2 separate regions of the Homo sapiens genome follow, and region 2 is linked to region 1. The links come from fine-mapping of genetic effects on gene expression. Tissue or cell type: cerebellar hemisphere. Region 1 holds a variant in brackets; the other region holds the start of a gene. All regions are shown on one strand. Distances are from middle to middle.

Region 1 (2,681 bases):
ACAGGCACCCGCCACATGCCCAGCTAATTTTTGTATTTTTAGTAGAGATGGGGCTTCACCATGTTGACCAGGCTGGTCCAGACCTTAAATAATCTGCCTGCTTCAGCCACCCAAAGTGTTGAGATTACAAGTGTGAGCCACCACGCCCAGTTGCTTCTCACTATTTTGACTTCTGTCCTTGTTTTGTAAGCTGATGATGATAAAAAGGCTGAGTGAGTGGCCAGCGGACCCAGGTCAGCAGCCGGGCTGTCCCTGGCCAGCCAGGGACTCTGACTTTTGTTTTTTGTTTTTTTTTTGAGACGGAGTCTCACTCTGTCGCCCAGGCTGGAGTGAAGTGGTGCAATCTCGGCTCACTGGAAGCTCCGCCTCCTGAGTTCACGCCATTCTTCTGCCTCAGCCTCCCAAGTAGCTGGGACTACAGGCACCCGCCACCACACCCGGCTAATTTTTTTTGTATTTTTAGTAGAGAAGGGGTTTCACCGTGTTAACCAGGACGGTCTCAATCTCCTGACCTCATGATCCACCTGCCTTGGCCTCCCAAAGTGCTGGGATTACAGACGTGAGCCACCGCACCCGGCCCAAGGACTCTGACTCTTAAGGCCACCTGAGAGACCTTAGGCAGACCATGCATTGCACCAGCCTTGATCATGCAAACTGCATTCTAATCAGGGCCAGATAGGGAACAGAGCAAAGATGGAGCCTATCATTCCCAGGGACTGAGGGGACCTGAGCAAGCAGGGCCTTCCTGAGGCAGAGGGTGTCTGAACCTGACACAGCAACGTGACCGGCACTCCAAGGCCTCTCCACAAGCCTCTCTGCAGGGAACTGCAGCCCCAGCAGACAGTCCCTGGCCCCACCTTGCCCTCTCCCCAGGAGCTGAGCCCAACTCCACCCAGCCATCAAGGGTGGGCTTTACAATAACCGCCTCCTCATGCCCGCGTGCCAATGCAGAGGCTATGCACCCTGCATGCCAGCAGAACAGGCAAGCCAGAGTGATTCAGCACTGCCTAGATTGTGGCTTGCCAACCCATGGTCGGCAACAGGCCATGAGTCACAAATTACAGGCCTTC[T/C]GTCCTAGCAGGCTTTGCCAGCCTATGGGGTGGCAACGCTGGCAAGGAGCTCCAGAGCTCCAGGCTGAGGGCTGTAAGGAAAGAAAGGCCCAGACAGGAGCAGCAGACTGGGCACTCTTACAGCTTCCCTCCCCACCAGCCAACGTGAGGCTCCCAGGCTCCCAGGACACAGAGCCAAGGTACAGTTTCAGTGATGTGATCCCAGGAGAGAGGCTTGGACATGCTCTGACCCAGGGCTTCCTTGGCTCTAGACCAAGAGGAAGCGGCTGGCATCAGAGCCTAGCACACTTTCATTCTGCATCTTTCAAGTGAAACTATGGGAGAGCCTCCCACGTGCTGTAGGCAGTGGCCCCAGGGAAGTGGTCCTCTGCCCTCTAAGACATCCCCACACCCAGGGAGGGCCTGGAGCAGCCTTGTTCATAGGGCCAGGAAGCTAGAAGCCCGTCGCGCTGTTTCATGAGCTCCTACCAAACAGGAGCTGACCCCACAGGCCTCTGAGCATCAGCACACCCCCGAGCCATTTGGGCATCCTTGTCCATGACAACAGGGTTTCCAGAATTTTCAAGAGAACTGGGTCATTATTTTGTGCTAGTATAATGAAGCCAACCACACCCTATACCCCCCACCTCAATCCTGCCCCCAACAAAATTCCTTTCAGTTCAAGAACTGATTCTCAGCAACAGCAAACTTAAATGCTACCCAAATTTGATGTCTTGTTTGGGTTTCTTTGTTATACATGTTTGATTGTGTGGCTGAAGGTGACGCAGAGAGGCACAAACAGCAAGGAATGAGAGCCAAAGCCAGGCTTGGGCAGAGGCCCAGGGAGACTGTGTGTCTCCTTCAGGAGCAATCACACCCACCCCCAGGACTCTGAGCATCTCTAAAATCCACAGGCCTTCTGCACCCTGCACGCCCTCCAGGGCTGTTCCACAGAGATCCTCTCCCACACCCCAGGGCCCCTGCTAGTGATGCTGGCCTCATCAAGTACATGGAACAAGCCAGATACAGACTCTAATGAGCACATGTTGGGCACAGTAAAGCCAAGAGTCAGAAACTGATCCTGATTTCAGCAGCTGGAAACTTTGTGCCATTTCTTAGGAACTAATAATAATAATACTGGTCACCACTGAGTGCAACTGTGCTCCAGCTACCACGTTGATGCGCTGCACGCACCTCATCCCAGCCAGGGATCGACCACCCGTCCAATGCAGGTGTCTGCATCCCCAGCACCTGGCACAGTGCCTGGCACCAGGAAGGTGCTCAGGAAATATGAATGAATGAATAGTAAGGTCAGTACACATTAGGAAACCAAAAAGCTTCCTAGTCATTTCCAAACATTTCTTTTCCAATAATCGTGTTTCTTATTAGAGATATATGATACACTTGTGAATAGACATATTTTGCCTTTTTTAAAATTTGGAAGCATTTCAAACACATTGAAAAGTACAGAAAATAATATGATAGCTCAAACCCTATTTTAAAATATCAAAGAATTTATAACTGCAACATTCAGAATAGAGCTTGCTTGTAGGCTGGAAGACAAAGGATGGGGAAGGAGGATACAATAGTAAAATGGTCTTGGTAAAATTCTAGTTTTTAAGTTAGTTGTAA
Region 2 (2,681 bases), 55 kb after region 1:
GAGGGGGGTGTGGGGGCTGGTGTCCGAGACACCCGGCTGGGCGGGCACAGATAGGATCTGAACACAGGGAAGCATGGCCTAGCTCTTTGATCCACAGCCAGCCACGCTGGGCCTGGACCCGGAGGGAGGCACGGCTGTCTTCCGGCCCGGCTTTGCACCGCTGCCAGGGGTCCTGTGGGGCCCTCAGAGGGAGAGGCGTCCAATACCCGGCCCTCCCCCAAATACCCTCTATCCCAACTGCTCTCAGAAGAGGCGTGAGCGTCTACAGTGAACCCAGCACAGAAACCTGCTAGGGGAGCTGCTGTTGACTGCATCGCGATCCAAAGGACCGGCGTCTTTTGTAGATGCAGGGGCTGAGCCAGGCCAAGCGCGCCGTGGAGGCCCGCGTGGACGCAGACCCGGGTGCCATACAGATGCGCTGGAATCCAGGCACTTTCCCGCGCTCCGCAAATCTAGATGTTTCAGCCTGGATCGAGCGAGGGTTAGAGGGTTAGTCAGGCCAGGGTCAACTTCAGAGTCATGGGCTCCCTAAATGCGACTTCTAGGGTTGAGTTGCTGTGGACGAGCGACCCATGTCGGAATCCCGCGCCCACGTGGCTGCCCAAAGTTCCGAGTCTCCGGGCTGCAGGTTCTAGTCACGGAACCGAGTTGGGAGAGTCATAGGGGCTGGGACTTGGAGGATCGGCTGAGGTCCGGTGCTCTTGGCTGTGTTCGCGGCTCGGAGCCGTCGCCTGACTGAGGGGCCCGTCACAGATGTGTGATGTATAAGCTCTGCACGCAACAGGAGCTCAATAAATGTGCGAAGGGGGGTATACTTATGTTCGCACTGTATGCAGGCGGCCTAGAAGGAAGTCCCTGATTGGCACAGGGATGGAGGATGGGGCAAGAGCCGCAACAGCGCCGCGGAGTTCCAACGCTGCCGGTTCCCTGGGGTACGAGCACAGCCTCAAGCAGCCTCAAGCCCTAGGAAGCCCCCAGTTCAAAGCACAGGGCGCATTGGAGCCTGGGCACGATACAGTTCACACCACGGCTGCGATGGTAAGCCACGCCCAAGTCCCAAGGGCCTAGGGGACCCCCGCCCTCCACAGCCGGAGGAGAAACCTGGGCGCAGAAAGCAGGGGGAATATCTGGTTGTAGGTGAGTAAGCGGGGTCAGGAGTTCCCGTTAGAGTCTCTGCGTTTCGGGAGAAGGGTGATCATTCCCAGGCTTGTCCGACGTCTCTCTCAGGGTGCGCTCCGGAAGAGCGAGCCCTTTAAGGCTATGCCGAGTGGGCGCGTCCCGGCCTCTCCCGGGAGAGGAGAGGCGGGGCGGACCTGTGTCCCGCCCCCGGCCCGGCCCGCCCCCAGTGCCCGCCCCGCCCCCGGCACTCGGCCGGCGGCGCCTTTGATGTTCCGACCCGCCAGCTCGCGGAGCCGCTCTGCCCCGCGCCCTAGCCCGCGCCTGCAGCCCGCCCAGGCGGAGTCAGCCCGCGCTCCGCCCGCCGCGATCCGAGCTCGGAGGTTCGGACTCCGGGCTCGCCGCCCCCCGGGCCGGCTCCGCGCCCCGCACTCCCGGCGCCCAGCGCCCCGCGCCCCGGCGGGCGGAGCGCACCATGCCGCAGCTGGACTCCGGCGGGGGCGGCGCGGGCGGCGGCGACGACCTCGGCGCGCCGGACGAGCTGCTGGCCTTCCAGGATGAAGGCGAGGAGCAGGACGACAAGAGCCGCGACAGCGCCGCCGGTCCCGAGCGCGACCTGGCCGAGCTCAAGTCGTCGCTCGTGAACGAGTCCGAGGGCGCGGCCGGCGGCGCAGGGATCCCGGGGGTCCCGGGGGCCGGCGCCGGGGCCCGCGGCGAGGCCGAGGTGAGCCCCCGCCGGCGCCGGCTCCTCCCCCGCGGTCGCCGCGCCGCGCCGCCCCAGTTGCGCGCGGCCCTCGGGGTCTCCAGCGCGCAGAGCGTCCCTGCCCCGGCGTCGGCCCCGACCCCCGCGGTCCCACCGCCCCTCACTCCCCTCCGGTTCTCCCTCCAGGCTCTCGGGCGGGAACACGCTGCGCAGAGACTCTTCCCGGACAAACTTCCAGAGCCCCTGGAGGACGGTGAGTTTCTGCCCGGCCCGGCTTCCCTTCGTCGCGCTCAGGCCCTGGCCTCGGTGGGACGGGGACGCCAAGGACCGCGGGGAGCCGGGTGCCTCCCCCACCGCAGCTCAGGAGGCGGCAGAACCCAGGGGTGGAGAGTGGGGGGCGGGCTTCCCGGGCGCCGCCGGGTCGAGTCACTTCCGGTGCCCTGACCTTTATAGGAGTAAACAGACCCCCGCCATCCCCGCCTCCCCTCCTGCCCAGGTGACTGACTAATCCGCCGCCTTCAGGAGACAGAATTGGCCAAGGTTTCTTGGTTGGAGGGCGGGGGGTGGGAGGTCAAGTAGGGGCCACCTCGGGGAGGCCTGCCCTCCAGGTCCTTCCCCTAAAACTTGGCACTGCCGATACTCCCAGCCCGTTCCTTCCCAAGTCAGGAACTTGCAGGGGACCCCTTGGCAATTCTTTTTCTCTCAAGAGCAGACAGCCTTCAGTCCCAGCCGCTGCCAGGGCTGGTGTGTCTGACCCAGCTGTGGTTTTTCCAGGCCTGAAGGCCCCGGAGTGCACCAGCGGCATGTACAAAGAGACCGTCTACTCCGCCTTCAATCTGCTCATGCATTACCCACCCCCCTC

Evidence for each region. PIP is the estimated chance that this variant, and not a neighbour inherited with it, causes the effect.
Region 2: TCF7 starts here. The variant in region 1 is fine-mapped to the expression of TCF7 in cerebellar hemisphere (GTEx, PIP 0.98).

What each region holds. Positions count from the first base shown.
Region 1 is chr5:134,058,036-134,060,716 of GRCh38, forward strand. It overlaps a transcript of VDAC1 not described here. Among named protein-coding and RNA genes, the nearest start is that of VDAC1, 54 kb to the left of the region's middle. RefSeq lists enhancers at 446-1,044, 1,045-1,641. The variant T/C (reference allele first, on the strand shown) is at 1,071.
Region 2 is chr5:134,113,316-134,115,996 of GRCh38, forward strand. It overlaps TCF7 (transcription factor 7), which reads left to right and starts at 1,366. Exons shown (of 10, transcript NM_003202.5): 1 at 1,366-1,840; 2 at 2,006-2,072; 3 at 2,594-2,681. The coding sequence starts at 1,592. It also overlaps a transcript of VDAC1 not described here. RefSeq lists an enhancer at 1,003-1,232 and a silencer at 1,323-1,442.